Homo sapiens: one gene and its partners. The protein of the gene in region 1 interacts with the protein of each later gene in a pairwise test. Each region holds a gene or a part of one and is shown in the gene's direction. Other genes may lie near its edges. The genes, in order: CCDC57, SLC25A48, GIGYF1 and ARID5A.

Evidence for each region.
Region 2: the proteins of CCDC57 (region 1) and SLC25A48 interact in binary tests that used the Homo sapiens proteins (3 or more experiments, as listed by UniProt).
Region 3: the proteins of CCDC57 (region 1) and GIGYF1 interact in binary tests that used the Homo sapiens proteins (3 or more experiments, as listed by UniProt).
Region 4: the proteins of CCDC57 (region 1) and ARID5A interact in binary tests that used the Homo sapiens proteins (3 or more experiments, as listed by UniProt).

The regions. Positions count from the first base shown.
Region 1 is NC_000017.11:82,100,963-82,104,868, reverse strand, and holds the end of CCDC57 (coiled-coil domain-containing protein 57), read left to right. Parts: intron 1-3,002; coding exon 3,003-3,187; 3' UTR 3,188-3,399; downstream 3,400-3,906. UniProt on the Homo sapiens protein: Pleiotropic regulator of centriole duplication, mitosis, and ciliogenesis. Critical interface between centrosome and microtubule-mediated cellular processes. Centriole duplication protein required for recruitment of CEP63, CEP152, and PLK4 to the centrosome.
Region 2 is NC_000005.10:135,865,640-135,872,672, forward strand, and holds part of SLC25A48 (solute carrier family 25 member 48), read left to right. Parts: intron 1-5,821; coding exon 5,822-6,079; intron 6,080-7,033.
Region 3 is NC_000007.14:100,684,230-100,691,262, reverse strand, and holds part of GIGYF1 (GRB10-interacting GYF protein 1), read left to right. Parts: intron 1-1,707; 5' UTR 1,708-2,671; intron 2,672-2,747; 5' UTR 2,748-2,812; intron 2,813-2,955; 5' UTR 2,956-3,024; coding exon 3,025-3,059; intron 3,060-3,152; coding exon 3,153-3,282; intron 3,283-3,379; coding exon 3,380-3,475; intron 3,476-3,646; coding exon 3,647-3,758; intron 3,759-3,856; coding exon 3,857-3,965; intron 3,966-4,216; coding exon 4,217-4,257; intron 4,258-4,443; coding exon 4,444-4,614; intron 4,615-4,829; coding exon 4,830-5,083; intron 5,084-5,183; coding exon 5,184-5,289; intron 5,290-5,781; coding exon 5,782-5,919; intron 5,920-6,116; coding exon 6,117-6,214; intron 6,215-6,368; coding exon 6,369-6,540; intron 6,541-6,646; coding exon 6,647-6,813; intron 6,814-6,922; exon of another isoform or gene 6,923-6,925; coding exon 6,926-7,026; intron 7,027-7,033. UniProt on the Homo sapiens protein: May act cooperatively with GRB10 to regulate tyrosine kinase receptor signaling. May increase IGF1 receptor phosphorylation under IGF1 stimulation as well as phosphorylation of IRS1 and SHC1.
Region 4 is NC_000002.12:96,539,724-96,546,756, forward strand, and holds part of ARID5A (AT-rich interactive domain-containing protein 5A), read left to right. Parts: exon of another isoform or gene 1-920; coding exon of another isoform or gene 921-954; intron 955-7,033. UniProt on the Homo sapiens protein: DNA-binding protein that may regulate transcription and act as a repressor by binding to AT-rich stretches in the promoter region of target genes.

The DNA.
Region 1 (3,906 bases):
CCCTGAGATTCCACCAGCTTCAAACCTCCAAGCCGGGCTTGGTGGCCCACACCTGTAATCCCAGCACTTTGGGAGGCCGAGGTGGGTGGATCACGAGGTCAGGAGATCGAGACCATCCTGGTTAACATGGTGAAACCCCGTCTCTATTAAAAATACAAAAAACTTAGCGGGGCGTGGTGGCGGGCGCCTGTAGTCCCATCTACTCGGGAGGCTGAGGCAGGAGAATGGCGTGAACCCGGGAGGCGGAGCTTGCAGTGAGCTGAGATCACGCCACTGCACTCCAGCCTGGGCGACAGAGTGAGACTCCGTCTCAAAAATAAAAATAAAAATTTAAAAAACCCTCCAAGTATGGTGCAGCCGCCTGAGGGGACGGAGCCCAGCCTGGGTGGCCCTGCCTCAGCACACACCAGGACCTGGGAGGGGTTAAGCCTGGGAGGGGCAAGCAGGCCCCAGTCCCCCTCCCCTGGTTAATCACTGCAAGGCCTTGGATGTTTCAGGAACTTTCCAGAAGCTCAGTTCGGGGCCAGAGCACAAGCAGCCCGTGGGGGAGGGGTGCAGGACCCAAGAGGCGCGTTCCTCACGCTGTGCCCGGCAAACTGTGTGTCCACATGGTTTCCCTGCGGCCCAGTCAGCCCAACGCAGAAAGAGAAATCCCGGCCAGGCTCGGCAAAACAGGTCAGGCGAGAAGGCGGGGCAGAGAGTGGTGGAGGCCAAGAGCGTTTTTACACACCAGTTACTGGGTTGACCTCAGATTAGCATCAGGTAGAAGAATCCGGGGTCACAGGGAGTCACGCCTGGGGCAGCCGCCTTGACACATCCAGCTCCGTGCCTCTGACCTAGGACTGGCTGGGCTGGGGCTGTCCGCTGCCCTGGGGTCCTGGGCTCATGGCCAGTTCCCTGCCACCATCACTGAGGAGGGCTCCGCAGGAAAAGGACCAGTGAAGAAACCAGAGCCTGTAAAGTGGATATTCTGAGCTAGGGGCCGGCCTGCCCTGGGGAGGGGGCCAGCTCACCCTCCCTGCCCCTCCCTGCCCCTCCCTGCCCCGGGGACTGTGACCCACTCACACCTCCCTGCTTCGCCCCGGGATACAGCCAGGGTCCTCCCAGCAGGGCCAGCTCAGGCCTCCCAGGCAAAGGGGCAGGCCCTTCACCCCCCTCCCTCAGCTCACTTTTTCTGAAAATCCCCACAGGCTTTGTCTGAGGAGGATCAAGCCGGGCAAAGCCCCCAGAATCCCTGAGCATTACAGAGGGACAACCAAGGCCTCTGGGTTTGAGGAGATGCCTCAGGGTCACAGTGGAGCACTAGGGCCTGGTCAGAGGACCAGCTTCCCCGCAGGAAGCCCTTTCCACGGGATACCCCACCCTCTGCCAGCCAGTGTGGGGGGTGGGGGGAGGGAGTGGGGATGGGGGCGTTGGCCGGGACCAGGAGGTCAGGCAGGCTTATTGTTGAGAGATAAAGGGTGGTAGCCTTTGTGTGAAGAGGAGGAATTCCTCTGGGGGTTGGAAACAAAGGGAGCAGGCAGCGTCCAGGGCCCCCCAGGACCCCAGCAGGGGGCCAGGGACTGTGTGACCCCAACGGGGCTGCAGGAAAAGGAAGACTGGTTCCGGGTGTCTTGAGACCCCAAGAGTGGATCGGAGTGGAAGAAGCTGAGATGGGAAGAGGGGCCCAGGGCCAGGGCTGGGAGTGTGTGGCTGCCCCCATGGGCACTGCGCAGCCCAGCTGAGAGTGCGTCATTGCCGGTGTCCCCAAAGCACAGACGCTTCCCAGTCACCCAGGCTGCACGCAGACCACACAGGCTGGGCTCCAGCAGGAGGCGTTGGCCGCCCGCTGACCTGCCTGGGTCAGCCTGTCCAGACTGCCCACTGGGCCACATTCAGCCACGTGCTGGAGTCCTCTAGACCTCACCCCAGCCACAGTGTGGCCACGCAGTGGACGCTGAGCTCACATCTTACTGTGGGGTTTTTTTTGTTTTTTTTTTTTTTGAGATAGAGTTTGCCCTTGTCCGCCCAGGCTGGAGTGCAGTGGCGCAATCTCGGCTCACTGCAACCTCTGCCTCCCGGGTTCAAGCGACTCCGCTGCCTCAGCCTCCTAAGTAGCTGGGATTACAGGTGCCCGCCACCGTGCCCGGCTAATTTTTTGTATTTTTAGTAGAGACGGCGTTTCACCATTGTTGGCCAGGCTAGTCTTGAACTCCTGACATGAGGTGATCCACCCACCTCGGCCTCCCAAAGTGCTGGGATTACAGACGTGAGCCACCAAGCCCAGCCCTTGCATGGATTTTTAGTAACATTTTGCTGTTGTTTTACCAAAAAAAACCCCCACATTCTTAATTGAAAAAATGAAAAATAGAGAAAAACTGGCCAGATAAAGAAGATCACCTACAACACCCCTCTGCGAAGATGGTTTTAGCCGATGTTTAGGAAGGGCTATCTGGCATTTAGGCCCCAGCCTCTGTGTGTAGCGCACTCCTGGGCCCTTGGCCTGTGCCTGGCCACGTGGTGCCCACCAGCACGGCCTTTCCTTTGGCCTCAAAAGCCTGGCACTGCTGGCCCATCGGGGAGGCGGGGGCAGGCAATGTGTCTCAGATGGTAGGGACACCCGGGGCAGCCTGGGGGGAGGAGCTTTGAGTCAACCATTTACCCCAGCACCCCTGCCCCCTCCTGGGACCCATTACCACACAGCACCCCTGCCCCCTCCTGGGACCCATTACGAAATGGTCACAACAGGACCATTTTCAGAGCCACATGTCCAGGTGCCCAGTGGAGGGGCAGGCCCAGTCCCTGCCAAGCAGGACCCACTGAGCAAGGCGAGGCCACAGCTCTCTGGTCACTCCAGGATCCTTTGGCCTTCACGGACTCCTGGAGGAAAGCCAGGCCAAGGGTCACAGGGCCCCCGCTGGCCGGGAACACGGAAGTGCTGCACCTGTGCAGTGCCTGTGAGCACAGCCTCCTGCTCCCCCTGCCATCCTGATGCATGCTGTTTTTTCCTCTTTACCTGACAGAGCTCCCAGCTCCTCCAGCAGCCGACAGGAGGCCCGTCAAGATGCAGGCAGGCATTGCCACCCCAGGGATGAAGACAGCAGCCCAGGCAAAGGCCAAGACCACAGGAGCCTCCCGGTCTCATCCTGCAAAAGCTAAAGGCTGCCAGAGGCCCCCCAAGATCCGTAACTACAACATTATGGACTGACTTCCTCCCCCCACCCCGCCCCACTAAGGGGTGCTCGGGGCCTCCGCATGGTGCCTGTGCTTTCACCTACGTGTTGTGGGGGGGTGTGGGCACAGCGTGCAGGGTGGAGGCAGGGAGCTGCAGGGCAGGCTCCCAAATGCTGCTGAGGCGACCCTGCTGACTGAAGGCCTCCCTGAGCACAGGGCCCATTAAAACCAGGTTCCTCCCTGGGGCGTCTGCTTGGCCTTAGCGTTGTTTATCTGTCCTACTTGGGAAATGCAGTATCAAGTGCCTGTGCCAGAGCCTGGCCTGCCCGTGTCACCACCCACAGCCATCTGCACACCAGTGGTGTTGGGGACAGTGTGGCCTTCCTCAGAGCCTGGTAGCAGGTAGGGGGCAGATCAGAAAGCCCACCCACAAAGCAGGCGTCTCCTGAGAGTACCATGGGAGGGGCCCTCCCAGAAGGAGTGAGAGCCTTGGATCCCAGTGAACCGGGCCAAGGTGACCCCTGGAAGCCAGGTGGGCACCTGGGCCTCATGCAGGTTGGGGTGTGCATGTCAGGTGCTGGCAGGGTGGGGGCCAACCGGGGACAGCGGTCACTGCTGGGCCTTCCACGTCCACCCCCACGAAGGATAACAGCAAAATGTCCCTGCCACCTGAGTGCCCGGGGCCAGGTACCTGCAAGGATGAGAAACGCACACGTAAACTGACGCCCGTCCGCCCGGAACACACTGCACTAC
Region 2 (7,033 bases), on another chromosome or scaffold:
GGGCCATAGTGTATGATTCCTGTCATCAGGAAACTCACCGCCACACTAAGGGCAAAACAACACACTCAGAAAACAGTAGCAACAGAGGCAAGCCATACTAGGGGGCACAGCCTCAGGCATGGGCTGTGGGGACCTTTTTCTAAGAGCGCCTTGTTAATATGGAAAATGTGGTCCAACCCATCGAACAGCAGCTGTACTTTTAAGAGTTCGTGGACTAAGAAAACAAATATGTAAGGAAGCTACTATGGATTACTAATATGTTTAAGTAAAATCTTATTGTGTTACCTGTGATAGTACCCACACATATGAGAAAAATGGGCACATATGTATGTGTGAGACATTGTAGGAATTCTGTCAATGCATAATGCTCATGGATTGTGGGGTGCCTTGAAATGACTCCCACTGGCTGAGCCTTACTGGAATAGAACCCTCGTGAAAACCCACACATCCCTGACTAGTGACCCATAGGGCCTCATTTGTGGATGGCTGATTTGTGAAGGATTTTCTGTAGAAAGTGGCCTCTTGAGAAATTATGCTGTGTTCCCTGTCCCACCACCCACATACCGACATACCCACACAGCAGAGGAGGCTGGGAGCACTTTCCCTTCCAGAGAGTGGCCAGGCCTTTGTGCTCCTGAGGGCCAGCCCTGCTCCCCTCAGTGGCCAGCCATTGTGTTTCTGCTGGCCTTACTGTTTCCAAGGTCATGGCCCATTGAAGACATTGAATAGCATTGACTGAGAAAGGAAAATAAATGGAACATCTTTGTGTTTGTGTCTGAGGAAGGCACAGTGACTTTCTGTGGCTGGGTCCCTGGGTTCTGGAAAAGGGGCAATAGTGGTAGAGCTGGTGTCTCCTGTCTGTGTCCAGCCCAGCTCAGCCCTTCTGAAGTTGGATGTCCCCTAAGAGATGGCTGTATTGGTACCTGTTAGGATTGGCCAAACCTGGACCTACAACCACCACACCCCAAAATAAAACTCCCTGAAGAGGCATCTACCTCTAAGGGACCTCCCAGGCCAAACAGGAGGCCAGCAGTAAGGCACTGGCACTTCACAGAGAGCTGCAGAGCCAGATAGCCATGGCCTGTGGCTTTAGGTGTGCTGGCCGGGACTGAGCTGGACAAGGCAGGAGGCCTGGGCCCTCCTCCACTTCCTACGGCAGTGGGTTGCTATTTTCATTGACTTTGAACATCTTGCTAGTCTTGGTTACATAGGTGCAGGGGGCCTGAGATAGCCCTAACTGAAGTTGGGGAAATGAAGGAAACCACATGCCTCCTGAGTTTTTGAGGTACATAATCTCTATCTATCCTAATAAAAGGTAGTATGCCCTTGATCTAGAGAGGCAGCAGTTTTTGAGGTACGTAATCCATATCTATCCTAATAAAAGGTAGTATGCCCTTGATCTAGAGAGGCAGCAAAAGTTGGTCTCAAATGCAAAGCATTCATGATTTTAAAAAGATCAAAATTTGATTAATGTTTTAATCCTCATTACAGAATAAAAAATTCTAATTAGAGAAATTAGGTACACTTCGCTTGAGAAGGATATATATCTAATGCCAATCCTTTCGCATATGCATGTACACCCTGAAGGTTCAGAAACAATGGGCTGGGAGTTGGCAGTTTCCTGTGAGCTGTGTCCTGATCCGGCACCTCGTAGTCTTCCTCAGGTTCCTTGGACAAAGGACTTGCAAGTCCAGAGATCTCAGTTGTGCATATTTCCAAGACTGACTTACCAGTAACTTTTCAAATCAGCTTTTAAGAGTCATCAAAATTGGGTTTTCACAAACTAAAATTGGTCCCATGGTATCAGAGTACCAAGAACTCCGATCCAGTGTTTTCCTGAGGCTATCTGCTGAGGCTCCTGGCAACCCCCCGGCTCTGCCACCCCCACAAGCCAGAGAGCACTTAGCACCACATGGGCCACTGGCGGAGATTTCTGCTGTTTTCCAGAAGAAGGCTCTTCTGTTTATTCATCAGCAGGGCTATCTTATACTGGTCATAGTTTTCTATGGCTCCTACTCTTGCTGTTGAATTGAAAATCAGTATTACTATAAGTGCATCATCATGTTAGGTTTGTTGGACTTTGGGCCTCACCAATGGTGGTGGTGTGGTGCATTTTTATCTCAGGTATATTTATGCTTGGAATTATAATAACTACCTTTGATGACATTCTGCTCTGTGGACCCAATATGAATCATCCATACCACTATTGGTAGTGCTAGTGCTGATGGACTTGTAAGTTACAACCACTGCCCCAGAGAAAGGTTGCTTCTCAATGAGTGACACCTCATGATATCACAGAGTTGTTTTACCTTGAAAATCAGGAGAGGATAGTTAGGCTGTGGAATCACTGCTCTCCCTAACTGGGCTGTAAACAAAACAGTTTATTTCAAATATGAGAAGTCACTTCCATTGTAGAGTGTGATGACATAGGTGAATGCAATTGTAAAAACTCATCAATCGTGCACTTGAAAGCTTTACCTTTTATTGAATACAAAGTATAGTTCAATTAAAAGACAAACTGACAAAAAACAAAAATAAGAGGCCAGAGGAGGAGAACAGGGGCTTTTGAGAATGAGACTTAAGAATGGGGAGGAGGTCCAGCCAAGAATGCATGACCACAATGTAATAAGGAAATGTCAGACAAACCCCGAATCAGGAAAGCTCTATTAACAAGCAGAGGGGTTGTGTACTCTTAAAAAATGTCAGTGTCACAAGAAACAAAGAAAGGCTATGGAAATGTTCCAGATTGAAGCACTGGATCCTGTCCTGGAGGGGAAAATGCTATAAAGGGCATGCATGAAGATCAAATGACAATTTGATCATAGATGGTAGATTAAAGTATTGTCAAAGTAGCTATATGAAACTGGTAATTGTGCTATAGTTATATAAGACAATATCTCCATTCTTAGGAAATATTTTTCAACATATTTAGGGGTAAAGACTCTTCAAGTATGTAACTCACCCAGAAATAGTTTAGAAAATGAAGTTATGTATGAATGTGTAAAAATACATCTATGTGTATACACACACACACACATACACACACACACACACACACACACATTCCCTATTGCTTACCTTGGGAAGAAAAGAAGAAAAAGGATAAGTTTGGGTCTTGTTGCCAAAGTCAGTTCAAGGTTTGACAGGTGTTTTTGCAACATCTGCACCTCCAAGCAGACACAATGTTACCAGAATCCCCTCTTTCAATCAATAACTCCTGAAAGCCACATCATACCCATAGCTGATTCATGAAAACCTTGACTCCTGGTCAGGTCACTCTTACCTGGAAATGAATGGGGCTTAGGCAAAGTTTAGACACTGGGACAATTATATCGATTCAGTTGAATTGAACACACACGAGTGAGAAGGGAGGGAAGTGAAGAGAGTGGGAGAGAGAACCCACAAACAATAAGCAAATGAGCTTATTTGCTTATTGTTAGCAATAGATAAATCTGGGTAAATTGTATGTATGGGCATTCTTTATACTATTTTGCTTTTTATACTTCTTTTGCAAATTTAGAATTATTTCCAAATAAAAAGTTTTTTCAAAAAAAAATATTGTGAATGAAGGAGCTAGAAAGAATTCCAAGAGCTTCACAGTATAAACTTGGGTCAGTTTGGAGCTGTGTCAGTATCCTGGTGATGGGAGTCACCATGATAATTATACTGCACTAACAGCCATAAATGGGTAATTCCAAAGCAATAAAAGCTAGATTGGTTATGTGGCAAACCTGGGAGAATGAGAGAGAATTTCCTTATTGCTTACTCCGCAGGGAAAAGGAAAACAGTACAGGATTTTTGTTGACAAGGCCAGTTGGAGGTTTGGTGGGTGTTTTCCCATCTGTACTTTCAAACAAGCAGAATGTTATCAAGATCCTCTCCCTCAGTCAGTAACTCCTGAAAGCCACTATTTACCCATAGTTGCTTCATGAAAACCTTGACTCCTGGGTCAAGTCAGTTTTGCCTGGAGATGAAAGCAGTTCAGGCAAAATTTATACATTGGGACAATGACATCTATTCTGTCTAACGGCAGAATTTCTCCAGATGAACCAGGCAGTAGCACCATGGGTCTGGAAGAGGAAGGGGTGCCTAGTGATCTCTCAGTGGGCTTTCAAAGGCCATCATGTCTGATCTTGCTCAGAGGGGTCTTGTGCCCCCAAAGGTGGCTACTACCCCGGCTCACCTCCTATGGGATCCACTGTGGAAGAAGTTGGCTCCATCTCCTGTCCACACTGAAGTTGGCCTAATGGATATGGCAGGGGTTTACTCCCTTCCCCACTGGAAGATGGAAAATACAGCATGGGTTTGTTCAAGCATACTTCCCAGGCACGCAGAAACCACCCCCTCAACCTCACCTGCTTCTGGGATGAGTTAAAGTACAGATTACACTTTATTCTCCAATCTCTAGACTGTGGAGTCATGAAGCCGAATGCTTCTAACCTTTCCTCTGATAAAGATGGACTGTTTGGGGGACTTGGACATTGACCTATATGATGAAAGCTGTCTGCCTGTTTACCAGCATGTGTAAAATCAGATTGGAACACTGTACAGAGAATTAAACTCAGGTGGCAAAATAGGCTTGTGGTCGCAGACACACTTTATTCTATTTCTTTCCTGGTCATGTCACATTATGTTATTTCCTGGAGAAGGGAAAGTCAAGAACAAGAGCCTACTTTATCTGCACTGGGTCTGGAAGTTCTGTCTGGTCATGAGTCAAAGCCTCATAGTAGAGAAGGATCCATAGCAGAGAAGGGTCCGTAGCAGAGAAGACAAGCATCAGAGTGGGAGATGGGTAGCAAATGAGAGAGAGGCAGAGTCTCAGCTGGCTATGTGCACCCCTAGAAGAAGCTGGAGACAAACAACCCCTGAGCTGCCAGCATAGACTACTGAGGTTAGACAAGAAGATAGCAGCCCTGGGTCCCAGGACTTTGAGGGGCCAAGAGCCCCAGTGCTGCCCTACAACTGTTTAGGGCACAGCCTGGCCAGGGCTGGAGTGAGTCACTGAGAATATACCCAGCTCTCCAACCTGTGGGTCCTGCCACCAATTCATGTCAGCAACCTTGGTCTCAGTTGATAACGTTTTAAGCCCCTACAATGTTCAAATCACCATGCTGAACACTGTACATGTATTACCTTATTTGCACTCATGACAAGCTCCCCCTCTTTTAACATAAGGAAATGGGCTGAAAATGCTGCCTTGCCAAGGTAAATTTCGAATTATTTCCAAATAATTTTAATAAAATTATTTATTTTATTTTTATAAAATTATAAATATTAAATTATAGATTTTAAATTTTATGTATAATTTATAAATTATTTTCAATAAGCGGTAGAGCTAGGATTTGCAGCCAGGACAGTCTGGCTCCAAATCTCATATACATTTTGCTCCGCCACACTGTGCATAAATAAATGTGTACACAGACACACACACACACACACACACACACACACACACACACACACACACACACAGCATGTTGGATTTTCTAGCTTCAAAGAAGAGCTTAGTGTGGCTTGTCATAATTGATTCTAGACATTCTGAAGTCACATTTGCTTCGAAAGAAGTAGTGGTATTGACCTAAAGTAACTGGTGTTCTATCACGTGGCTGAGATCGTCCCCAGTCTGGCTGTGTATATTGGCAGGGGCTCTTGTTGGGACCTCAGTATCCTGGTTTGAGCTGCCAAGAAGGTCAGATTTGGTAAAAGCTGATGGGCTACATGAGAGGGAACTGTCAAAGGGCTGGGCTGGCTCCAGTGTCACGGAATGTCCAGTCTCTTACACCCTGGGTCACTTGCCACCTTCTCTCCCCTGTCTTTGCAGCCAACCTCGGTTTGAAGTCCAGGGCAGTGGCTCCTGCGGAGCAGCCAGCATACCAGGGGCCAGTGCACTGCATTACAACCATTGTGAGGAATGAGGGCCTGGCGGGGCTATACCGGGGGGCCAGTGCCATGCTGCTGAGGGATGTCCCAGGCTATTGCCTCTACTTCATCCCCTACGTGTTCCTGAGTGAGTGGATCACACCTGAGGCCTGCACAGGCCCCAGCCCCTGTGCCGTGTGGCTGGCGGGCGGCATGGCAGGTAAGGGCAGCAGCAGCTGGAGCCGCACCCCTGTGCAGGCCACAGCAGTGGGACAGCTGGGGAACTGCCATGCCCTTCTCAGCCCAGGGGGAGGGCAGGACACATTTAGGTACTCACCCAACAATTCTTTGTTAGGTACCTACTCTGTCCCCGGCCCTCTCCCACCTCAGTCTCATCCCTTCCCTATGCAGCTATGAGAATGGCAGTTCCCATTTGACTTTCAGGCAACAGATATATTTTGAACACATACTCTGTGTCAGGCATTACTAAGCTTTGGAAAGGAAATCCATTATCATGGTTCAGTTTATTAAATGCAATCTTTGTAATGTAAGGATGCCATTAGTTCTACAAGGTAGGAATCGGTTTCCCCATTTCACAGATGAGAAAACTCAGGTCCAGAAATGTTAAGTAGCCAATCCCAGGTCATACAGCTGGAGCTGACAGTATAGCAGGACTCTGCAGTCAGAAAGATTTAAGTTCAAATCCACACTTCATCATTTTGTGACCATGGACTTGTTGCTTAACCTCCCTGCTCAGAATCCTGCACCACATCCTTCTTTCATTTAAGGTAAAAGTTGATATCTTTGCAATGGTTTTCCAGGCCCTCAGTGATCTAGCTCCCTGTTCCCCACCCACCTCACTTCTACTCCTCTCCCCTTCCTCACTTTCTCCAGTCACACTGGTCTCTGCTGCAACTTGACCATGCCTGGCCCTTCCCTGACCACAGGGCCTTTGTACCTGCTACTCACCACCTCCTGAATTTAACAACGTGGAGACCACTGGGGATTTTGGCAAGGGCCATTTGATGGAGAGAAGGGTGTAAAAACCTGATGAAGTGGGATAAAGAAAGAATGGGATGAAGGATATTGGTGCACCCAAGTATACACAACTCTTCTGAGGGTTCTGCTATGCTGTAATGAGGAACAGAGAAACAGAGCCATAGCCAGAAGGGCC
Region 3 (7,033 bases), on another chromosome or scaffold:
GGGGCTGCCCTGTGCACCCCCTGCCCAGTGGTGACAACCCAGAATGTCTCTAGACTTGGCCAAGAGCCCCCTGAGGAGCAGAGGTGCCCCCAGTCCAGAACCTGTTGGAGGGTGGGAGCCCCATGGTGGCCTGCAGGTGTGCCACTAGTTCCTTTAGTCCAAGGAAGGGGCCAGGCACCATCAGCTTCCGGCACCAGACCCTGCTGTGGGGGTGCCTAGAGAGTTAACCTCACTCTCCTGGTTTCTTCCCAAGAAGGCGGGTGGCATGGGCTTTTTCCTGCTCTGGGCCTGCTCTCTCCCCTGTCTTGGTGTCGCTGTCCTCAGTCTGCATGAACCATTCCCCCTTTGTGTGCCCCTTGCAGCCAAGACACAGCCAGGATGGGTGACTTGAGCCGGAGGCACCTAGGAGAGCTGCCCTTGCTGCGCCTGGCAGGGGGCAGTGTGAGGCCATCGCTTTAAATTTTTTTTTTTTTTTTTTTTTGAGACAGAGTCTTGCTCTGTTGCCCAGGCTGGAGTGCAGGGGCGCAATCTCAGCTCACTGCAACCTCCGCCTCCTGGGTTCAAGCGATTCTCCTGCCTCAGCCTCCCGAGTAGCTGGGATTAGAGGCACCTACCACCAGGACTGGCTAATTTTTGTATTTTTAGTAGAGACAGGGTTTTGCCACGTTGGCCAGGCTGGTCTCAAACTCCTGACCTCAGGTGATCTGGCTGCCTTGGCCTCCCAAAGTGCTGGGATTACAGGCATGAACCACCACGCCTGGCCACTTTTTCTTTTTTAAAAAATGTTTAGAATTGTTTCTGTAGAGTCGTGGTCTTGTTCTGTTACTCAGGCTGGTCTCGGACTCCTCTCTTCAAGCCTCCCACAGTGCTGGGATTATAGGCATAAGCCATTGTGCTGGCCAGGTGGTCCCTTTTCTGTTCTACTCTCTCCCACCCTCATGCCTCCAGGATGAGCTTCTGGCCTTCTAGAAGGAATGAACTGGAGGAGGCCCAAAATGGCCTCTCCTGAGGCTGATTTGAAGGAATGTGGGGTGTTTTTCTTGGAGTGGGGAAAACTTAGGTATGCGGTGGTTATCTCCAGATACCTTTTGTTCCCTAAAGCTTTTTTAAAAAAATGATTATTGTGGTAAAATATACAACAAAATTTGGAGACTTTAACTGTCTCTAATTGTGCCATTCTGTGTTACTAAGTACACTCACATTGGTGTGCGGCCATGACCACCAGCGGCCCCAGGATCCCCTCCTCAGTTGAGGCTCTGGACCCTTCAGCAACAGCTCCCTGTCCCCTCAGCCCCTGGTGGCTGCCCTTCTACCTTCCTCCCTCAATGAGTGACTGCTCTAGAGACCTCATGAAAGAGAAGTAAGGGGTAGCTCTCCTTTTTTGGCTGGTGTGTTTCTCTTAGCGTGATGTCCTCAAGGCTCATCCAGTCCCCAGATTGCTCTAGGTGGCCACCTGCAGTCAGTGACAGGCTGGTGGCTTTTCATGTCATGGAACACACCACCACTGGAGCATCCAGCCGAGGCAGAGGAAGGAGAGGTCCCAGGGGAGGCCAGCCTGGCCTTGGGTTGCCTCTGAGCCCGGTGTTTCCCCCTGGAGTGCCTGGACTCTGAGCAGGCCTCGGCTTGTCATGGGCTGCTGGCTCAGCTGGGGCTGATGGCCTTTCCTCCTCAGCACCCTGGTTGAACCCGCTTCCTCTTCTTTCCCAGACTGTGGCGTCCTGGAGTTGATGGGAGCTGCAGCACCAAGCCGGGCCAGCCTCCCTCCCAGCCAGTGACAACACCGCAGCACCTGGACCCCGCCCACCCGCTTGAGTCCTCTGCCTGGGGCCCCAGGGATGCGCCTCCTCCTGAAAGTCCCCTCCATCCTCCCTTAGAGGAACAGGCTGCCGCCGCGCCCCCATCAGCCTCCATTGCCCTGACCTTATTTCCACCTGATGGTGCCAGAGGCTGCTTCCCAGCTGGTATCCTGAGATCCTCGTTCCCTTGGTGGCTTGGTTGTTTAAGCCTCCATTATTGATTGGGGGCGGTGGTCTGGGTGTGATTCCTGTGGGGGAAACCAGCCCGAGGTGCCTTGGCTCAGGCTTGCCTGCCTGGAGTCCTTGTCGTGTACCCGTCTGTGGCCCTAGAGTCACCTCCTGCTCCTTTTCACTGGGTTTCTCCCCAGACCAAGCCCCTGGATTTGAGCTTCTGAGCAGCCAACTGATTTTTTTCATGAGGGAAAGAATTTTGCTCCTAGATTTATTTCTAATCCTTTTCTCCGTAACTGACCTTTTCTCTGTAAGCTATTTGTGGCTCTAGTGGGTTTTTGTTTGCTTGCTTGTTTTTGTTTTATCTTTGCCCTGAACGTCCATCCTGGCCTCGGCTGCCTCCCTCCCCGAGTTCTTCACTACACCTCCTGTCTCAGCCTCCCAGAGAGGGTGGCGAGGGTGCTGATGCCCAGAGACACCATCCGGCGAATGGACCTCTCCTGTCATGCGGGGCAGGGCAGGGCTGCCGGCAGAGCCATGTCCTGAACCCTCCCTCCTCCCCCCTGCTCTCCTTAAGGGTCTTTCCCAGATGTGAAGGTCCCTCCCAGGCTCTACTGAGGTCAGACCAATTCCCAGTGGCTTGGGTACCCTCGTTCACTCCAGCACCAGCCCCTGCCCTCCTTCTTCCCGGGCCAGGCTGCCAGGTGAGCCCCGGGCCAAGGGTGGTTGCCCTGCTGAGGCCGAAAGGACTCGAGCTTCCCATCTCCTCGCCTCCCCCAGGTCTTTCACCGTCTGGACTCATCTCTGGGTAACTCATGGTGTGAGTGGCCACGTGGCTGGCTCAGGTGAGTCCTTTTAGACCCCAGGTGACCCACCAGCTAGTCCGGGGCCCATTGTTGTGCCCACTAGGATGTCCCCCATGGTGTCCTCCCTGCGCTTTAAAGTTCTCCTTCGTGTGCTGTTCTTCATGGCCCCTGTTCCCCCACAGGTGTTTGGACAGTGAACGCCAGGTCCCCTCCTCCCCACCCCCGGCCTCTCAAACACGCCCAGCCCCACGATGGCAGCAGAGACACTCAACTTTGGGCCTGAGTGGTGAGTCACTTGTGCCTCGGCTGCCGTGGAGATTCGAGAAAGCACAGTCAGGCTGCCCTGACCTCTGTCTTCTTCTCTCTGTGTTGTGTCCAGGCTCAGGGCCCTGTCCGGGGGCGGCAGCGTGGCCTCCCCACCCCCGTCCCCTGCCATGCCCAAATACAAGCTGGCTGACTACCGTTATGGGCGAGAGGAAATGCTGGCTCTCTACGTCAAGGAGAACAAGGTGGGTGCGTGGGCGAGGGGGGTTGGCGGTGGTGGCCTCTGCCTGTGGAGGGGATCTGGCAGCATGTGGTGTCTTGGCTGTCCCAACCCACTGCCAGGTCCCGGAAGAGCTGCAGGACAAGGAGTTCGCCGCGGTGCTGCAGGACGAGCCACTGCAGCCCCTGGCTCTGGAGCCGCTGACTGAGGAGGAACAGGTGGGACCGGGCCAGGAGCTGAGGCTGCGGGAGCCTGGGAGGGGAGGCCATGGGTTGGGTTAGGAGGAGAGGGGCCAGCGCTGAGGAGACAGGCGGGGAGGGTGCTGTGGGGTGGGGGTGGAGGTGGTTGGGTGCCTGGGTCCTCACTCCCGCCCCTGGCTCCCTCCTCAGAGAAACTTCTCCCTGTCAGTGAACAGCGTGGCTGTGCTGAGGCTGATGGGGAAAGGGGCTGGCCCCCCCCTGGCTGGCACCTCCCGAGGCAGGGGCAGCACGCGGAGCCGAGGTAGAGGGGTGATGGCGTGTCCTGGGGACGGGCAGATCTGGGCCCCTGACTTCGAGAACGTGCAGCAGGTTTCATTGTGCGTCTGGCCTCTTCTCTAGGCCGCGGCCGTGGTGACAGCTGCTTTTACCAAAGAAGCATCGAAGAAGGCGATGGGGCCTTTGGACGAAGCCCCCGGGAAATCCAGCGCAGCCAGAGCTGGGATGACAGGTGGGGCGGGGAGGGGGCATGGCGCAGAGCCGGGCAGGCCAGGGAGGGGAGGCCTGGGCCCTGTCGCTAGAGGGTAACAGAGGCCCACCAGATAAGCCCTGTCCGAGATCCCGGTGCTCCTGACCCCTGGTTTCGTTTGTCCCCTTCCTCCCTCCACTGCCTCAGGGCACAGTGGACAAGGCATGGGGCGGTTGCACAGGGTGGCAGGGGAGGCTGTACTGTTTCTGACCCACACGTTTCCCCTGCTGCAGAGGCGAGAGGCGGTTTGAGAAGTCAGCAAGGCGGGATGGAGGTACGAGGCTGCTGAGGGCGGCGGCCGGGGCGGCAGGGAGGACCAAGATGGGTGGCCCAGTCTGGGGGTGCTTATTTCGGAGGTGTTGGGGGCAGGAGGGCCTGGAGCTGGCCCCCCCAACGTTTCTTGAGGGTCCAGGCACCACGCTGCCTTTCTAATAACTGCCCCTGTCTTCCCGTCTCCCAGCACGATGTGGCTTTGAGGAGGGAGGGGCTGGCCCAAGGAAGGAGCACGCCCGCTCAGACAGCGAGAACTGGCGCTCCCTACGGGAGGAACAGGAGGAGGAGGAGGAGGGCAGCTGGAGGCTCGGAGCAGGGCCCCGGCGAGACGGCGACCGCTGGCGCTCCGCCAGCCCTGGTGAGATTGGGGCCTGGTAGCATTGGCGGGGGCAGTGGGGAGCAGGAACTGTAATGAGAGGGTGGGCTCCTGTAGCCACGGGGAGGGAGCAGAGGCTGGCTGGTGTGGGAGTGGCCGGGACAGCAGCCCTGGAGGTGCTCCGTGAGCTGCAGCAGAGGGGGCCGCTGGCTTCGCTTGGGTACCCACTCTTCTTCTCCCTGACTTTTCCTGTGCAGATGGTGGTCCCCGCTCTGCTGGCTGGCGGGAACATGGGGAACGGCGGCGCAAGTTTGAATTTGATTTGCGAGGGGATCGAGGAGGGTGTGGTGAAGAGGAGGGGCGGGGAGGGGGAGGCAGCTCTCACCTGCGGCGGTGCCGAGCGCCTGAAGGCTTTGAGGAGGACAAGGATGGGCTCCCAGAGTGGTGCCTGGACGATGAGGATGAAGAAATGGGCACCTTTGATGCCTCTGGGGCCTTCTTGCCTCTCAAGGTATCTGTGAGGAGGCGAGGGTGGGAACCTGCCCTTCCGGGGTCCTCTTCCTCCCCACCCACCCCAGCTGTTCTCTGCTCCCCACCCCGGCCCCATGCAGAAGGGCCCCAAGGAGCCCATTCCTGAGGAGCAGGAGCTGGACTTCCAAGGGTTGGAGGAGGAGGAGGAACCTTCCGAAGGGCTAGAGGAGGAAGGGCCTGAGGCAGGTGAGCCGCGGGGTGCCCAGCGGGCCTGGGGCTGGGCCGGGCAGGCACTGGTGTTCTTTGCCGGGCTGGGCATTGGCTGCCCACCTACCTGTAGAATCAGGCTACTTAGATCTGGAAGAAGAGTGCTGAGAGGTGGGGAGGAACCAGGGGGTAGCAGAGCCATGTCTTCAAGGCAGTGTACCAGATAGAAATCAGGCGTAATCAAAATGACCTTTGAAAGTCCCTTGAAGAAGCTGTAGAACCTGGAGTGACGTCTGCGGTGTTGTGTGGTGTTGTGCGATGTTGTGATATGTTCCTGCCGCGTCTGGCAGCGTGGAGGCGAGGGTCAGGGCACCGCATTCCCTCTGCCATTAGTTGAGTTGACCCAAGTGAAGTGGTGGACTCGGCCTAAGGGAGTGTGACCCGCGGTTCCAGCCACACTCAAGGGCTTGTGCTAACTCGCGTGGCAGGCCCAGCCCTTGGTTCTGAACTCTGGCCATCTCCCTCTTCTAGGTGGGAAAGAGCTGACCCCACTGCCTCCTCAGGAGGAGAAGTCCAGCTCCCCATCCCCACTGCCCACCCTGGGCCCACTCTGGGGGACAAACGGGGATGGGGACGAAACTGCAGAGAAAGAGCCCCCAGCGGCCGAAGGTAGGAAGGGAGGATGGCCTACCTCCCGGGTGCGCTGGGGCTGTGGGAGAAAGTGCTCCCCACTCGTGGGGGTGGGCACACAGGGCATTCACATTGAGGAGCCATGGCAAGAGCGTGGTGTTCTGGAGTGAGAGTAGGCGAAAGCTATCTTGTCTCCTCCCCGCCCTTCTTTCCACCTCCTATCTCATGCCTTCCAGATGATATTCGGGGGATCCAGCTGAGTCCCGGGGTGGGCTCCTCTGCTGGCCCACCCGGAGATCTGGAGGATGATGAAGGCTTGAAGCACCTGCAGCAGGTGTGGGGGCCTGAGAAAGCGGGAGGGACCCTTCCCACTTCTGACCTGACCTGCTTGGCCCCAGCCCCGGCCCCAGCTCAAGCTCCATCCCCATCCCCATCCTGATGTTGCTGAGATTGGCAGCTGAGCCTTTCTTCTTTTTCTGGGCATCCAGGAGGCGGAGAAGCTGGTGGCCTCCCTGCAGGACAGCTCCTTGGAGGAGGAGCAGTTCACGGCTGCCATGCAGACCCAGGGCCTGCGCCACTCTGCAGCCGCCACTGCCCTCCCGCTCAGCCATGGGGCTGCCCGGAAGTGGTTCTACAAGGACCCACAGGGCGAGATCCAAGGTACCTGTGTGGGATGGGAGGGCTGCTCAAGGCCGTTCTGGTTCAGGGTGTCTCTGGCATACCCTGTGACCCCAGTGGTTCTCCCGCTCCCTCGCTCCCTGTCCAGGCCCCTTCACGACACAGGAGATGGCAGAGTGGTTCCAGGCCGGCTACTTTTCCATGTCACTGCTGGTGAAGCGGGGCTGCGATGAGGGCTTCCAGCCGCTGGGCGAGGTGATCAAGATGTGGGGCCGCGTGCCCTTTGCCCCAGGGCCCTCACCTCCCCCACTGCTGGTGAGCCGCTTCTCCCCTGCATGGAGGGACAGGGTGTGAGGGGTGCCGGCAGGAGTCCAGCAGAGTCCCCTCCTCCCTGCTGGGGGCACTGGCCGAGCTCTCACCTGAGCAGGGAAACATGGACCAGGAGCGGCTGAAGAAGCAACAGGAGCTGGCCGCGGCGGCCTTGTACCAGCAGCTGCAGCACCAGCAGTTTCTCCAGCTGGTCAGCAGGTATGGG
Region 4 (7,033 bases), on another chromosome or scaffold:
TCCCCCTCTCCCCGCTGCTGCCCAGCTCTCTGACCAGCCCCCTCCCATCCCTGAGCCTGGATGCCTTAGCAGTCAACACAGACCTGCTCTTGTTAGCAGAGTGACAGGAGCGATGTGCTGGGAAACTGCACATCTACTTGGGGAAAGGGGACAAGTTTGCATCCTCTGAGCACAGATAAGGAACTTGAGGTCTCCCTGCTCCCATTAGAAAGAAAAAAATCTCTAGCTCTCAGGGATCAGCGTCTCTCAGGAGTCAGACTACCCTGGTTCTGAATCCCAGCTCTGCCATGGATAAGCTCTGTGGCCCCAGGCAAGTTACTGAACCTCTCTGAGCCTCAGACATTATATCTGTTATATCTGGATGGCTGGGAAGATTCAGCAATGCAATGTTGTATGAGATGCCTAGCCCACACCAGCCAGGGCACTGATTTGAGTCGGTGGAGCATGTAACTTGAGAACAAGTAGACCTATGGGAGCATCCTCTACTGGAGGCAGTGACAGACTAACATCTTCAGTGCTGGAGTTTTAGGATCTGGGAGTTGAGCTTGACTCAGACAGGAGCTATGGAGTTGGAAAGAAATCAGACTCATAGCACAGGAAGAGCCTCAGGCAATCCTCCTGCCCAGCACCCTGCCGCACCCCCTCTCTGCTTAGTAAGGGACTGGGTCACTAGGAGCCCAGGCTCATCTTCTGGCGCAGCCACCTAGCCTGCCTCGGCCCTCTTCCCAGCAGTGAAATGAGGAAATCGCAGGGGGGCTTTTGTGGAGTGAACTACTGTTATCAGGGTTTTTCTAACACCATTTTCTAGCTGCACAAAACTCAAGGAACAAACTAGGAATAAACCTCCCCAAGAAAGCACAGGGGCTTTTTAAGAAGGAACTTCTGAGGACTGCAGAGGGAAACCTGAATTATGGAGACACATGGTCCTGAAAAGAAAGATGCAATACTGTAAAGGTATTATTTCTCCTCAAAGTAGTTTCTAAATTTAAATGCAATCAAAGCCCCAGTAGTGGGGGTTTTTTGTTTGTTTGTTTGTTTGTTTTGGAGACGGAGTCTCTGTCACCCAGGCTGGAGTGCAGTGGCCTAATCTCAGCTCACTGCAACCTCCACCTCCTGGGTTCAAGCAATTCTCCTGCCTCAGCCTCCCGAGTAGCTGGGATTATTGGCGTGTGCCACCACGCCCACTAATTTTTGTATTTGTAGTGGAGATGGGGTTTCACCATGTTGGCCAGGCTGGTCTCGAGCTCCTTACCTCAAGTGATCTGCCTGCCTTGGCCTCCCAAAGTGCCAGGATTACAGGCGTGAGCCACCGCACCTGGCCTTTTTTTTTTTTGAGAAGGAATCTCGCTCTGTCGCCAGGCTGGAATGCAGTGGCGCGAGCTCAGCTCACTGCAACCTCCACCTCCTGGGTTCAAGCGATTCTCCTGCCTCAGCCTCCTGAGTAGCTGGGACTACAGGCATGCGCCACCACCCCCAGCTAATTTTTGTATTTTTAGTAGAGACGAGGTTTCACCATGTTGGCCAGGATGGTCTCGATCTCTTGACCTCATGATCTGCCCGCCTCGGCCTCCCAAAGTGTTTTTGTTTTTGTTTTTTTTTAAAGGGAATGTAACAGAATTATCCCAAAGTTCAAATGGAATATTTTTAAAAGATGAGTAATATTGGGCAACTTGCCCTCTGGATAGTAAGTTGTTTTATAAAGCTACAAAAATTAAAACAGTGTGCACAGGTCCTAGCATCCCACTGTGGATGAGACAGAATAGAAAGTCCAGAAATAGTCCCAGATGTGTTCCTTATAAGCACTGACATTATGGGGAAAGTAGCATTTTACACCATTGGAGGAGGAGGCTACTCACTGGGGCCCCCAACCAATGAGGGGAAAGTATGGCTAGGATCCCTATTTCATCCTGTATACTGGAATAGATTCCAGATGTGTTACAAGTGAGTAATGAGACAATAATCACCATCATCATCATTATTGCTTGCTGGATGGAGAAAGGTGAAGTCTGGATGACATTCTTATGGAGAGCAGTTTTCTTTTTTGCATTTGATCCCCCACTTCTGTTACAAATAAAACATGTAAGGCATTGTGCCAGAAAAGAATCTGCACACACAGGCTGGGAACAAGGCAGTAGTGCGGTGGCTCACAGCAGCAGCAGCAGCTATCAGGGGCAAGTGGGTTTCTCCTGCCTCTGTGGGCTGAGTGGGGCTGGGAGACGGGGCCTCCAGCTCCATAAGCCTTTTCCCTCCTCCACAGAGCCAGGAGAGGGCCCACCCCACCATGCAGGTCCTGCCTGCCTGGCTCCCAGCTCTCTACCTCCCAACGCTGGACCTGCATGGCCCAACATCTATGGCAGCGGGTTTCAAGCTTATTTTTTATAGCAGAACCCCTTTTACAAATATAACCCTGATCTGTGAATGATCAGGGAAAGGGAGGGATTAGGGCAGCCAGGGACAAGACAGAGGGCACCCTGGAGACCAAGGGGGAGAGGACTCTCCCTTCTTGCTCATCTAATGCTGCAGAAGAGGGGGCCCAAAGGCCTGCAACCCAGAGGGCCCTGGCAGGACAGAGCACTAACCCTGAGAATGGAGACCGAGTTCATCTGGGGACTCAGCTGGACACAGAGATAGAATGTTTCCCTTTGTGGCTTAAGGCGAACAGCTCTAATCCCTTTCCCATCTGGGGTTAAACAGCTCGGATTGGTGACCTCCTTTCCAGGTAACACGAGCACCCAACTCCAGGAGATTTTCCCCTGGTGTGGTCCAGGCAGAGCTTGCAAACTCTGAACCATGCAGAAGGGACTAGGGCCCCTCTCGCCCTGTGGCTCACAACCTGGCTGCCCACTGGGATGCCCTGGGGAGCTTTAAACCCTGCTGCCCCACCTTGGACCTTAAATCAGACTCTGAGGATGGGGCCGGAGCATTATGCTCCTCCAGGTGATTCTGATGGGCCCTGTCTAACCACTGTATTTTTCTGAAGCCCAAGGTGCAGCGACTTGCCAAGGGTCACATAGCAAGTCTGTGACTTAAGAAGCCCCAGTCACACCAAGGAAGACATGGAGAGGGTCTGTCGATGCTGAGGCTCTGGGGCAGCAGGAATGAGGGGAGGGGATGTGTGAGCTGAGGGTAGCAGGCAGTGGGAGAAGAGCCAGTGGAGGAGGTGCTTCTGGACCTGGAAGACTTCAGGAATTCACGGATAGCTAGCAAAGAACTCAAGGATCTTCCTCTCCCATTTCATAGCAGGGAAGACTGAAGCACAGAGTCACAGAGGACTTGGTTGGAAAGGCATCAGTCTGCTGGGTCACTTGTTAGTACCCAGGATTTCTGGAGACTGGTGGGTCAGAGGCTAGCCCAAGAGGGTGGCCCTGGTCTCTTTCTCTTTGACAAGCCTTAGGACTGGTTTCTCTCCAGGCTTACTTGGACTCTTCATGAAGGCCTTGCAAATGTTGATAACCACAGCAGCCACTGGACCAGAATCAGACTTTGTTTTGAATCCTGGTCCCCCAGGGAGGCAAGCAACTTACCCATAACCATTCTGGCTTCAGATTCCCCCTCTTTAAAATGGAATTCCTCCGGGACTGAGGGAGAGAATGTACAGGCACACCTTGCTCTATCATGCTTTGCTTTATTGTACTTCACAAATACAGCATTTTTTACTCATTGAAGGTTTGTGGCAACCCAGCATCGAGCAAGTCTATCGATGCCATTTTTTAACAGCACGTGCTCACTTTGTGTCTCGGTGTCACATTTTGGTGATTCTTACAACATTTCAAACTTTTTCATTATTATATCTGTTATGGTGATCTGTGATCAGTGATCTTTGATGTTCCTATTGTCATTGTTTTGGGGTACCATGAACCCCACCCACAAAGACAGTGAACTAAATCGATAAATGTTGTGTGTGCTCCTCCTCCACCTGCTCCATCGACCAGCATTCCCCATCTCTCTTCCTCTCTTTCTCTTCTTTGGCCTCCCTGTTGCCTAAGGCACAACAATATTGAAACTGGGCCAATTAACAGTCCTACAATGGTCTTTAAGTGTTCAAGTGAAAGGAGGAGTTACAGGTCTTTACTTTTAAATAAAAAAACTAGAAATAATTAAACTTAGTGAGGAAGGCAGGTCGAAAGCCCAGATAGGCCGAAAGCTAGGCCTCTTGCACCAGTTTGTCAAGTTGTGAATGCCAAGGAAAAGTTATTGAAGGAAATCAGAAGTGCTATTCCAGTGAACACGCATGGTAAAGCAAAACAGCCTTATTGCTGATAATGGAGAAAGTTTGAGAAGTCTGGATAGAAGATCCAACAAGCCATAACATTCCCTTAAGACAAAGCCTAATCCAGACCAAGGCTCTAAATCTCCAATGCTGTGAAGGCTGAGAGAGGTGAGGAAGCTGCAGAAGAAAAGTTGGAAGCTAGCAGAGGTTGCTTCATGAGGTTTAAGGAAAGACGCCATCACCATCACATAAAAGTGCAAGGCGAATCAACCAGGGCTGGTGTAGAAGCTGCAGCAATTTATCCAGAAGATCCAGCTAAGATCACTGATGAAGGTGGCCACACTACCACAGATTTTCCATGTAGATGAAACAGCTTTGTATCAGAAGAAGATGTCATCTAGGACTTTCATAGCTAAGGAGAAGTCAATGCATGGCTTCAAAAGACAGGCTGACTCTCTTGTTAGGGGCTAATGCAGCTGGTACTGGTGACTTTAAGTTGAAGCCTGTGCTCATTTATCATTCCAAAAAACCTAGAACCTTTAAGAATTATGCTAAATCTACTCACTCTGTGTTCTAAAAATGAAATAACAAAGCCTGGATGACAGCACATCTGTTTATAACATGGTTTACTGAGTATTTTAAGCCAACTGTTGAGACCTACTGCTCAGAAAAAAGGATTCCTTTCAAAATATTATTGTTCATTGACAAGGCAACCGGTCATGCAAGAGCGCTGATGAAAATGTACCAGGAGCTGCATGTTGTTTTCATGCCTACTAGCACAACATTTATTCTAGAGCCAAGGATCAAGGAGTAATTTTAAGTTTCAAGTCTTATTATTTAAGAAATACATTTTGTAAGACTGTAGCTGCCATAGATAGTGATTCCTCTGATGGGCAAAATACATTGAAAACCTCCGGAGAGCATTTCAGGTACATTTGTGGTTCGTGGGAGGAGGTCAAAATATCCAAGCATTTGGGAGAATTTGATTCCAACCTTCCTGGATGACTTTGAGGGCTTCAAGACTTCAGTGGAGAAGACACTGCAGATGCAGTGGAACCAGCAAGAGAACTAGAGTTAGAAAGCAGAGCTTGAGGATGAGACTGAATTGCTGCAATCTCATGATCAAACTTGAGTGGATGAGGAGTTGCTTTTTATGGGTGGGCAAAGAAAGTGACTTTTTTTCTTCTTTTTTTTTCTTTCCTTTTCTTTTCTTTTTCTTTTTCTTTTTTTTTTTTTTTTTTGAGACAGAGTCTTGTTCCATCGCCCAGACTGGAGTACAGTGGAGTAATCTCAGCTCACTGCAGCCTCCGCCTCCTAGGTTCAAAGGATTCTCCTGCCTCAGCCTCCTGAGTTGCTGGGACTACTGGGACCTGCCACCACACCCAGCTGACTTTTGTGTTTTTAGTAGAGACAGGGTTTCGCCACGTTGGCCAGGCTGGTCTCAAACTTCTGACCTCAGGTGATCCACCCACCTTGGCCCCCAAAGTGCTGGGATTACAGGCGTGAGCCACCGCGCCCATCCTAAAGTGGCTTCTTGAGGTGGAATCTACTGGCGAAGATGCTGTGAACATTGTCAAAATGACAACAAAGGATTTAGAATGTTACAGAAACTTAGTTGATAAAGCAGCAGCAGGGTTTGAGAGGAGGGACATCAGTTTTGAAAGTTTTGCTGTGGATAAAATGCTGTCAAAAATAGCATCACATGCATGCCATGGAGAAGTCTTTCATGAAAGGAAGAGTTGCCAGGTGCAGTGGCTCATGCCTGTAATCCCAGCACTTTGGGAGGCCGAGGTGGGTGGATCATGAGGTCAGGAGTTTGAGACCAGTCTGGCCAATATGGTGAAACCCCGTCTCTACTAAAAATACAAAAATTAGCCGGGCTTAGTGGCACGCACCTGTAGTCCCAGCTACTCGGGAGGCTGAGGCAGGAGAATCACTTGAACCTGGGAGGCGAAGATTGCAGTGAGCCAAGATCACGCCACTGCACTCCAGCCTGGGCAACAGAGCAAGATTCTGACTCAAAAAAAAAAAAAGAGTTAATGGATGTGGCAAACTTCATTGTTGTCTTATTTTAAGAAATTGCCACAGTCACCCCAGCCCAAGAAACCACCACCCTGAAATCAGTCAGCAGCCATCAACATGGAGGGAAGACATAAGAACACCTACCAAAGCAGGACCACTCAGTGGCCAAGGATTCTACCCTGTGCCTCTGAGTACCACTGGCCCCTGGCTTACGCTGGTTTGGGTTTCTTGTTCCTGAGGAGATTCTTTTTCTGTCTGGGATGGAAGGGAAATCTCATAGGTTCCTAACAATAAGGATGTCCTGGGAGGGAGTGAACCAATTCATACTTGATTAACAAAAGAACAAAGGACAGAAAGAAAAGGTTGTCAGAAGATGTGGGTTCCTGGTCTGGTATCTGCTGCCAGCCTGCTGTGTGGCCTCAGGCAGTTTCCAGTGGTTGTGGTTTTTGCAGTGGCAGAGGTGTTGCGTTTTTGCAACCATCAGCACATGGTGGTTCTTAGTAAAATACAGCCCATGGCTTCTCCTGCCCACCACGCAGGGTTGTTGTGAGCCTTGCTCATTCCAGCTTGGCACCTGCTGTGTGGGGTATGGGAAGCCTCACCGAACTATCAGGGAGCCCCAGGAGCCACAGGCAGTTCAGCCAGGATGGCTGTGAGTAGCCTAGGGCGAGGGAGGAGCTGCCCGTGGCCAGGGGCCAGAGGAGGCCACCCAGAGGAAGGCACTTGTCAGCAGAGACCTGAGGGGTCACCAGGACCCTTGTAGGTGAGGAGAGCATGTGGCCTTATTAGGGCAGTTAGAAC